4 separate regions of the Homo sapiens genome follow, and all the other regions are linked to region 3. The links come from fine-mapping of genetic effects on gene expression. A gene starts in region 3. Each other region holds a variant in brackets. All regions are shown on one strand. Distances are between the middles of the regions.

What was found. PIP is the estimated chance that this variant, and not a neighbour inherited with it, causes the effect.
Region 1: its variant is fine-mapped to the expression of AHR in whole blood (TOPMed, PIP 0.99).
Region 2: its variant is fine-mapped to the expression of AHR in whole blood (TOPMed, PIP above 0.99). The same link has a PIP of 0.9 or more in blood mononuclear cells.
Region 4: its variant is fine-mapped to the expression of AHR in fibroblasts (GTEx, PIP 0.93).

The regions. Positions count from the first base shown.
Region 1 is chr7:17,151,905-17,154,595 of GRCh38, forward strand. The region is part of intron 1 of LOC107986772 (a long non-coding RNA gene); the gene reads left to right. All of the region lies in intron 7 of LOC101927609 (a long non-coding RNA gene), which reads right to left. Among named protein-coding and RNA genes, the nearest start is that of AHR, 150 kb to the right of the region's middle. The variant C/G (reference allele first, on the strand shown) is at 1,027.
Region 2 is chr7:17,121,725-17,124,415 of GRCh38, forward strand. All of the region lies in intron 1 of LOC107986772 (a long non-coding RNA gene), which reads left to right. Among named protein-coding and RNA genes, the nearest start is that of AHR, 180 kb to the right of the region's middle. The variant A/G (reference allele first, on the strand shown) is at 1,534.
Region 3 is chr7:17,297,469-17,300,159 of GRCh38, forward strand. It overlaps AHR (aryl hydrocarbon receptor), which reads left to right and starts at 1,184. Exons shown (of 11, transcript NM_001621.5): 1 at 1,184-1,861. The coding sequence starts at 1,797. LOC101927609 (a long non-coding RNA gene) reads right to left here and starts at 1,852. Exons shown (of 12, transcript XR_007060234.1): 1 at 1,592-1,852. RefSeq lists silencers at 1,459-1,608, 1,659-1,768, 1,809-1,858.
Region 4 is chr7:17,679,029-17,681,719 of GRCh38, forward strand. No RefSeq gene overlaps it. Among named protein-coding and RNA genes, the nearest start is that of LINC02889, 120 kb to the left of the region's middle. The variant G/T (reference allele first, on the strand shown) is at 1,304.

The sequences.
Region 1 (2,691 bases), 150 kb before region 3:
GGGGAAAAGACCTAAACAACCACCTCACAAAAGAAGATAAAAAGGTATATCTCAAATAAATATATGAAAAGTTGTTCAAAATTATTTCATGAAATTTCAAATAAAAACAAGATATGGCTATATATGTATTAGAATGGCTAAAATCCAAAAATCTGATAACACCAGGTAATGCTGGTGAGGATATATAGTAAACAGGGACTGTAATTCCTATTACTGGTAGGAATGCAAAATGGCATAGACAGGCAGTTTTTTTTAATCAAGGTAAACAGTCCCACCATTTGATCCAGCAACCACACTCCTGTGTATCTACTCAAATGAGTTGAAGCCTGGGCACAGTGGTTCATGCCTGTAATCCCAGCACTTTGGGAAGCCTAGGCAGGAGGACTGCTGGAGTCCAAGAGTTTGAGCCCAGCATAGGCAATATGGCAAGATTCAGTCTCTACAAAAAAAATAAAAAAAGTTAGACAGGCTTGCTGTCATGTGTCTGCAGTCCTAGCTACTCAGGAGGCTGAAGTGGGAGGATTGTTAAGGCCAGGGAGGTCGAGGCTGCAGTGAACGGTGATCACGCTGCTGCACTCCAGCCTGGGTGACAGAGCAAGACCCTGTCTCAAAAAAATAAATAAATAAACCAATGAATGAGTTGAAGTTATGTCTACACAAAAATCTGCATGTGAATGTTCATAGCAGCTTCATTTACAATTGCCAAAAACTGGAAGCAGCCAACATGTCATTCAATAGGTGAGCAGATAAATGTGGCCTATCTATACAACGAAATATTGTTATAACTTGAATGTTTGTCCCCTCCCAAACTCATGTTGAAATTTAATTGCCATTGTAACAATATTAAGAGATGGGACTTGTAAGAGGTGATACGGCCATGAGAGCTCTGCCGGCATGCATGGATTCCTTGTAAAAGGATGAGTTCAACCCCCTTGCGTCTCTCTCTTGCCCTCTCTCTGCCCTCTGCTTTCTGCCATGGGATGACTTGGCAACAAGGCCACCAGATGTCAGCCCCTTAATCTAGGA[C/G]TTTCCAGTCTCTGAAATTGTGAGGAAATAAGTTTCAGTTCTCTATAAATTACCCAGTCTGTGGTATTTTGTTACAAGAGCACAAGATGAACTAAGATAAGTATTATCTAGAGATAAAAAGAAATGAGCTATTAAGCTATGAAAGACATGAAGGAAACTTAAATGCATATCGTTAAGTGAAAAAAGCCAGTATAAAAAGGCTATATACTGTATCTTCCCAACTACATGACATTGTAAGAAATGCAAAACTATATATAGAGACAGAGAAAAGATTAGTGTTTTTCAGAAATTCAGGGGGAGGGATGACAGTTATAGCACAGGAGATTTCTTAGGGCATTGGAACTATTCTATGTGATATTATAATGGTAGATACGTGGCATTTCACATTAGTCAAAACACATACAACTGTACAGCACAAAGAATGAACCCTAAAGCAAACTATGGACTTCAAATCCTCACCAGTATTGGTATTACTGAGTCTTTGGATTTTAGCCATAGTTAATAATGTATCAATATTGTTCCACTGATTGTAACATCAGTTGTAACAAATGTGCTACACTAATGCAAGATGTTAATAATAGGAGAAACTGGGGAGGTAAGAAGTGATGGAATATATAGGAGCTCTCTGTACTATCTGTTCAACAAAATCTTAATAAATGAAAAACAGCTGATGGAATGTAATAAGAAAGGTTTCTCAAAAGGCGCCCCCCACCCCCGCCATTTTTTGCCATGTGGACCATGCCATGTTTTGGCATGATTACTTTCAACATCTTTGTAATTTTACCACGTTTACTTTCAACATCTTTGTAATTGTCTATAGTCAGCTCTGAGAGATGACACATAAGATTTTGACCTGATGTCAGACTCCTCAATGATGAATCAACTACAGTGTTTCCCATTTCTTATAAGAGCTAACTTAGCTCTAGAAACCAAATTACCAAAATCAAGAAGAAAAGATAGGATGTCACTACCACCTTAAAGCAATTTTTAAAAATAATTATAAGGGAATACTCTGAGCAATTGAATGCTAACAAATGAGTTAACATAGATGAAATGGACAAGTTCCTAGAAGGACACAAACTACTGAATCTAACTCAAGAAACTGAAAATCTGAATCTACCTATAATAAGAAATAGATTGAATTAGTAATTGAAAACCTGTCCACAAAGAAAAGTACAGGCAAAAATGACTTCACTGGTGAATTTTACCAAACGTTTAAAAGTGAATTAATGCCAATCCCCAACAAACTCTCCAAGAAACAGAAGATGTTTTCCAATTTTGTCTATGAGGCCAATATTACCCTAATACAAAACCTGAAAAGGCATCATGAGAAAAGAAAGTGAAAGTGACAAATCAATATCTCCTAAAATATAGGTGCAAAATCATTAACAAAACACTATCAAAATGAATGTAGCAACACATACACAAAAGGATTACACATCAAGACCAAGTGAGATTTATTCAGGAGTCCATGGTTCGTTTAACACCCCAAAATAAATCAATGTAATAGAATATATTACAAAAATCACATGTCAATTGATCAATAAGAAGCATTTGACAAACAAAATATCCTTTCATGTACAAGTGTGCAACAAACTAAGAGAAAGGACCTTTCTTAATCATAAAATCTATGAAAAAGTCCATAGCTGTCATCATATTTGATGG
Region 2 (2,691 bases), 180 kb before region 3:
ACAAATTAGAAAACTTTATAGTAATGAGTACTCACTTTCCCTGCCCTCTTTTGACTCATTGTATCTCCTGGCATGTTATTAAGAAATCTCTATGTTTAAATAGAATGGTTTGGCAAAAATTTACTGAACATAAATAGATTGCAGTTGGTTAATTTGCTACAGTTGTTAAAATAATACCTGAGTTACAAAATAATTTGCCTGCATAATGTAAGAAGTGAGTGATCATGTAGGTTGCAAGACCCTAGAAAGCCAAACCTTTCAAATTCTATTTTTTAAATGAAGTTGGTCAGAAGTATGCTTTCAATAAAAGTGTTCATTTTGGAAAGTCTGGTAACTAATGCTAAGAGTTATATAAATATATAGTAAAATATGTTTCCTCACTGGAATCTTCCAAAATAAATAAATCTAAGAAATACCTTTGTTTATACTGTTCTTGGTGAGCTGTACTGAAATAAAAAGAAAGATGGAATATGAGATATTTATGTAACAAAATAAGACTTATGGAATATTATTACTGTCAAGATAATGAATATTTCAATATAAAAAGTCTCTGTATGGTATGTGTGATATGGCATTTAATATTTATCTAAACACATCTATTTTTTAGAAAATACATAAAACTCCATAGACAGTGAAATTTGCTGCTTTCAACCAATGGCTAAAATTTGCATCTGTCTTATGTTGGTGAATTAATCTACTCCGAATTTTCTCATATGAAAAAAATTAAATCATAATATATATATGATAATTTATATGATGAAAGAGAATTGATAAACAGCTTCAGAGAAAGATGTATGATATCCCAAAATCAGATAGAGCTTACACTGTTGGCCAGGAATTAGCAGTTGTTTGGAATATTTCTTCCCTGTAAGCACCTCACGACATCAAATTGTAGACTGGCTTTTCTATTACAGTCAGAGAAGACCCTTCATGCGGCATTTCTATAGAGAGAAATTTCACTGTGGTGGCAAACTCATCTATTTATTTAACACTGGTATTTCAGCCATCTGACAAATGGCCTTTTATCCAAAAACAAAGACAATGAAACACCCTTTTTCATGACCACTATTAATAATTGTAGAATTTTGGTGTTTAAATGCAGTATTAAAAAATATGTACATAACAACAACTAAATATTTACTGAACATGAATTATGTGTCAGGCATTATGTTCTGTATGAATTATTTTATGTAATTCTCAAAACCCTCCCTTAAGTTAGGTACTATTATTAGTTCCATTTTACAAAGCAGAAAGCACCGATAGACTAAGTAACTTATTCAAAGGCATAAATTTAGTCATTAATTATACATGAATTGAACAAAGATTTGTCTGGCACTAAGGTTACAGAAATGGGTAAAACATGAGCCCAGTCCCTGTGGAACTTAGTGGGAGACATAGACATGTAAATGGCAATTTAAAAGGACATGAAAAGAACCACACACTCGAAACAGGAACTGTAATTTGAGAAATAGAAAATAACATTTGAGCTGAAAGTAAGATTTCAGCAGAAAAAAGGGGAAGGTCATTCCCGAC[A/G]TCATATCCTGCATGTTTAGCAATAGAGAGGTATGAAGGGCCACGGAGTTTGGGAAATGCTGATGAGTGTGTATGGCTGGAATGGAATGTGTGAGGAGAAATAAGAGAAACTCTGTGGCTCAATTCACAGAGCCAAAATCATTCGGTTAATCTTTGCTTCAAACACTTTTACCATTTACTTACCTCCTTTTCTTTCCTCCTCTTTATGTGTTTACTATTTCCACAATAGTGCTTACGTAAATATTTTTTAAAGTATAGGATGCTCAAGATGACATATATGAGGAAATACTATATAATAGATTCAGGCACGTAAAGAAGTGAGAAAAGAGATAATATTCCTTTAATTAGACCAAAAGTAGTTTCTAAAATTAAATATCTAAAAAATCCCTGAACATTCCGGATGATATAGGAAAGCAAGAAAAAAGATTGCACACACAATTTAAAATTCTGATTTCTGAGTATCAAGCCTACTTGTGAGGTTGGACAATCCCTAAGGTTATCTAGGGCATTTGAAATATACCACAACTCCTGGGGAAACCCCTATAGAAAAGCAAATTTGTTTTAGAAAACAAAAACAAAAACCAACCAGGACTCTCTCAGTTTATGTTTAAATATGCTAAAGTAATTCATTTCAGAAGACAGTGTGCCAAAAAATTAAGTAAAATAAAATAAAAAAGAAAATTCTAAGATTATCTAGAGCAATATAGAGTAATTCAGGAAAACATACATGCGTTTACTACAAATGAGAAACGCATAAAGCGTAAGTCATGAAGGGTGTTTTCTACCAAAATTATGATTATTATCTATCAAAATAATAATTTCTAGGAAAATAATGATAAAACAAACGTTAATTATTTCTAGCCCTTTCTAGCAAGACAAGAACCTGCTATAGAAGTAAGGAGGCCAAACATGAAAGAAACCATGTATAGTGCAACAGGTGAAGGCCTGCAGGTATATTAAAAGTAAATGCTTGTTTTACTTTTTTACCCTTCAAGAACAGAGCTATTTTGGGAAACGTGTCTGACATAATAGTATGTGGTGGCAAAGACTGATGAAATAATTTGTGCATGAAAATAATAATAAACAGCATGAGTTAGAAAGTTATGAATGCAGATATATGTCATATATCTGTGTCATATATATAAAACACATGACACA
Region 3 (2,691 bases):
TTCTTTCCTCCAGCTATGGTAGAGAACTGCTCCTCCAACTTTATGTACATTTGAATCACCTGGGAGTTCCTGTGAACTTCGGGTTCTGATTTAATAAGGACACCCAAAGAGTCTGCATTTCCTGTAACTCTCAAAAGAAGCTGTGGAGTACTCTGAATAGCAAAGCACTGTAAGTGCTGTTTCTGTTAGTATCTAATCTATTAGTCCTAATCTCCCATTTATGCTTTGGCACTCATTCCCTCCTGCTTTCGGTATCTTAATATCTATCATTCCTTCACTCTTCCCTCAGGTTCCCTACATAGTTTATCTCTACCCCCTCTAAGCCGCTCAGTATCGCCCATTAAAGAACTAAACCAAAACTAGAAAACCCTCATTTAACCCTTCACTCCCCCTACATACAATCTGATGTGTCTCTCATCCACAGCTAAACTTGGAAGAAAAATTGCCTGCTTGAGGATGCCATTTTGTTATCTTCAGCTCAATCCTGTACCCACTTCAATGTTATTTGCAGGCCCATTACCCCAACACTGCATTCACGAAAGTCATCAGTGACTACACATTGAGAAAACAAGAATGACATTTTCAGTTCTCAACTAATTTGAATTTCTCAACAGTATTCAATATTGTTAATTACTCCCAATATTTTTCCACATGGTCCTCCATGACACAATACATAATAGTCCCCTTATTATCTATATTCCTGTCTATTGTAAAGACTTCCCCCGCACACCAAAAAAGGTCAAGGAAACTCCTAGCCTTCAAGTCTCAACTCAAATCTGGCCTTCTGAAGCCTTCCCAACTAGGAAAATATACAGTCCCATTGGTTGTCTACCAGTTGTCTACCAGTTAATTGTAATTCTTAGCCACAAGTTAGCTGACCCACCGTCTCTCAAACAGGTGAAGTTAAGCTCAATATTTGGCATATCTTGATATACTTTGTACAGTCTAGCTACAATAAGTTTGCCTATGCACGAAGATGGCTACCGGCGGGGGGGGGCGTCCTTACGTCCTACGTCATCACGTGCCGGGATGAGGGTGGGGCCCTCAAGGAAGACGGAATGGAATCCAGATGGGCGGGGGCAAGCAGGACGGGGCGGGGCTACGCGGGATCTGGGCGGGGCGGGGCCGGTGAGGGGTCGGGGGTGCTCCTGCTATTCAGCCGGTGCGCGCGGCGGCGGGAGGCAGTGGCTGGGGAGTCCCGTCGACGCTCTGTTCCGAGAGCGTGCCCCGGACCGCCAGCTCAGAACAGGGGCAGCCGTGTAGCCGAACGGAAGCTGGGAGCAGCCGGGACTGGTGGCCCGCGCCCGAGCTCCGCAGGCGGGAAGCACCCTGGATTTAGGAAGTCCCGGGAGCAGCGCGGCGGCACCTCCCTCACCCAAGGGGCCGCGGCGACGGTCACGGGGCGCGGCGCCACCGTGAGCGACCCAGGCCAGGATTCTAAATAGACGGCCCAGGCTCCTCCTCCGCCCGGGCCGCCTCACCTGCGGGCATTGCCGCGCCGCCTCCGCCGGTGTAGACGGCACCTGCGCCGCCTTGCTCGCGGGTCTCCGCCCCTCGCCCACCCTCACTGCGCCAGGCCCAGGCAGCTCACCTGTACTGGCGCGGGCTGCGGAAGCCTGCGTGAGCCGAGGCGTTGAGGCGCGGCGCCCACGCCACTGTCCCGAGAGGACGCAGGTGGAGCGGGCGCGGCTTCGCGGAACCCGGCGCCGGCCGCCGCAGTGGTCCCAGCCTACACCGGGTTCCGGGGACCCGGCCGCCAGTGCCCGGGGAGTAGCCGCCGCCGTCGGCTGGGCACCATGAACAGCAGCAGCGCCAACATCACCTACGCCAGTCGCAAGCGGCGGAAGCCGGTGCAGAAAACGTGAGTGTCCCGAGCGCGTCCTCATCGCGGGGGCTGGGCGCTCAGGCACGCGGGTGCGGGAGGCAGCCCCACCCCGCCCCCAAATCCCTGCGATCCTGGGATTAGGTCCATTCCCGGCACTGCCCGTGGAATCGAGGTTTGGAGGCCGGCTGGGAGACAGAGGACTTGGATTCTCCCGTTTTCAATGATTGCATTTTAAAAATTGTCCTCCCACCCATCCTCTTCCCCCGCACCAGTGCATACACACCCTCTCACATTTGCAACTTTGTTCTTTCTGATTTGGTCCTGATTTGTTGACAGCTCTGATCTGCCTTGGGCTAATGGATTAGTTAGTATAAACCTGTCTTGAAATCTCCTTCCACTTTTCATATCCGCATGGGTTAGGTTAGAGGACGGTCTTAATTCTCATTCTTCGTAGAGTTTGGTAAGGCGAGATGTTTTAAAGAGCTAAACACATGCTGACTTTTACGAAGGGGCTGAGTGCCTCTAAAGGTACTTTTTGGTCCCCACCAACTGGCTTTGTGTTGCGCTCATATTTACTTATTTGGCAGCAATTTTGTAGCGCTCATCGTGACCATATCGGTAAAGTGGATAGAAGTGGTAGCAGGTGGGAGTGGATGCAACGGACAGGATACGGTGGAGGATTTGTATTCTTCAGACATCTTTTTCGGAAGCTTGCTTATCACTTTTGGGGTGGCTTTAGGGTCTGTAAAATAAAAGATTTAGAACTGCATTTGAGAGAGGTTTTCATTCTTAACATCTACCTCTAATTCTTTTCCCCTTCAAAGTTTTCTTCTAGTTGAGTGAGTACAAACTTGCTTTTGTCGTTG
Region 4 (2,691 bases), 380 kb after region 3:
AAGGTTTGATTAACAACAGGGCCAAAACCACAGAAGAGTCAAGAGAAAGATGTCCTGTTAAACACATATATATATATATAGTTTTCTCTCTCTCTCTGTCTCCCTCCCTCTCTTCCCCCAGCAAAATACCTAATGCAAGAAGTCAAGATTGGAGAACCAAAGCATTTTTCTTCTGATCTTTAACCACAATCCCACATTATCCATCATTTCTTTAACTGTAAATTTCTATTATAGCTTCTTATCACAGTTTCTAGCCCATAGATTACTGTATTTTACAAATATATATATTTAGAAGCATATATATATGTAGAGAGAGAGAGAGAAGCAGCCTTACAAAATTAATTCTAATTATTTTCAAAATCAAAAGTCATTTCAGTTCTAGGTCAGAGCTCCCAGGATCGCCTATGAAAAGTTCTGAAGGAAAAACCTGGATAACATTTCTCTTTCCACAAGTCTCGCAAGGACATTCAGACCATCTGATTCATAACTCCCAGGAGATCAGGCTGATCCAGCACTTGTCCTTGTAAAAGCCGAAACCCTTTCCTTGGGATGCAGCAGCCTTATCACATGACCTCGGCTGGCCTAGCAGAGCAGGTGGGTGTGACATAATAAAATGCATTATGAAGGCCACCCTAGGAACTTTGGGAAGGGACTGGACTTGCCTCAAAAAGTATGCACATCCAGTTGGGGCGCAGGAGGGAGGAGGGGCCTGAGAGGGTAAATAAAGCCAGAGCTGCTAGGAGCTGAATTCCCTTTCCAGCAGCATCCTGAAGTCTTTGTTTCAGAATAAACTGGTGACAAGGAGAAAGGAGAGGAGGGGAGGGACAAGCTGGTGTCCTTTGGCCCATTACGTGCCTTTAGGTTTCCAGTGGTTCTCAGGCTTGCTACTCATTGGAATTACCTGGGGAGCTTTGAAAACCCTGGTATCCAGGGACAGGACCCAGACATTAGTATGTTTTTAAGCTTTCCAGGTGATCCCAATGTGCAACCAAATTTAGAACTTTAATACAACTGCCTAGCCTAGGATCACTCCTGGAATGTCCTGGGAGGGCATTCTCCAGACCCGGTTATCACGGACCCCTGGAGAGGGTCAATGGTCATCACAGAGTGCAGGGAAATTCCCTGACCTTGTCTCGTTAAGCAGTGCAAGCAGCAGCAGTTTCACAGGGCACATGACCCCCATGGCAGCCAAAAAGGGAATTAGCCACTTCAGCGGAGACGTTGCTTAAGGCAAAGGAATTTCCCCTTGTGCTCCTCATTTGCCCAAACAGAACACACGGTTTACTCATCCATTCTGAAGAAA[G/T]ATTTTGAGTTCTCAAGGATGTAGTCATTGTTCTATAAAGCCTTACAATTTAAAGTGTGAGCCCAAAACAGGAGTTTTGTCATCTTTGGGAAGCTTGGTGTGAATTCAGAATCTCTGGTTCTACCCTAGACCTGCCCAAAACTGTGTAAATACTGCTGGACTGGATGGAACACAGGATGTATTAGAATATTTTTCCTGTATTTAAATGTACACAAGAAAGGAAGACATGCTCATGGATTGACACATCTTGAGAAAGACTTGGGAGAAAAAGACAAAACAAATGTGTCAAAAAGAGAGAATGTAATACACAACCTTGCTTCATTTGAAACTGATTTTTGTTGTTTGTTTTTGTTTCGTTTTGTTTTTTACTTACCACCAGGAAATAGCTAAATTGAGTAAGAACATCTTAAAACTTAAGGGAGAAAAACTGAGTGATCAACCAAAACCTCAAGAGGAAATAATTAAGAATTTCTGGGGGGAAAATAGTGATAGTCTGTGAATGAGGACCCTACCGTATTAGCGCAATAATTAATGAGCCTAAAAGACACTGGTTACCATATGACTTTCCCTAAGCCTCAATTTCTTTAGGTGTAAAACAATACATTTAAATGAATAATCATTGTGGTCTCTTCTTGCTCAAAATTTTACCATTTGAAGATCCTTGACATTGAATCAAATATCCAAACCCAAATGAAAATAATTGTGCACAGTTTTAAGGATTATTTTACCACTAGGTGGCAATGTTGATTAAAAAATGTGAGAAACCAATGTAAACATCATTTTATTGTATTTTGTGGCTGACCTAAATCTGTTTTCCAAGGTTCGGGACATCAAAAAATTGAAGAATTGCACTACTATGCACTCGAGACCAAGAACTGAAACGTAGATTTGGAAAATATTCAGTAAAGGGACAACTGGAAAGGAAAGAAAAGCAGCTGCCTGAGGTTGACAGAGACAGTGAAACGCAGCAGGCCAAGCATAGAAGCTCACGGGATGAATGACCAGGGAGGAAATTCAGTAAACCTGGGTAGCCAAAGGATTCCAGATGCTGGTAATGTCCCCAAGGAGATTGCTGGCCCTTCATCCATGCTTGGTACCTTGAGAGGGCCCTAGGCTAAACACATGCCATGAGCTCTGATTGCTGGCAAGCAAATCTCATCACAATTTTTCTAATTTGTTTTATATCTGATTCCTAGCTACTATCTTCAATGTCTGGCTATTCCTATGGATTTCTGATTTTGCTGTGCTCTAGGACATAGCACTTCGGCTGTCCCTAGGAATTCATGCTTCAACTGCACCGCCTTACCTTGCTTCTACCTCCTGGACCTCACACAAACGACCCTAACTCAGGCAATGTTTGCACACCCCCTCCAGATTCCATGTCTGCT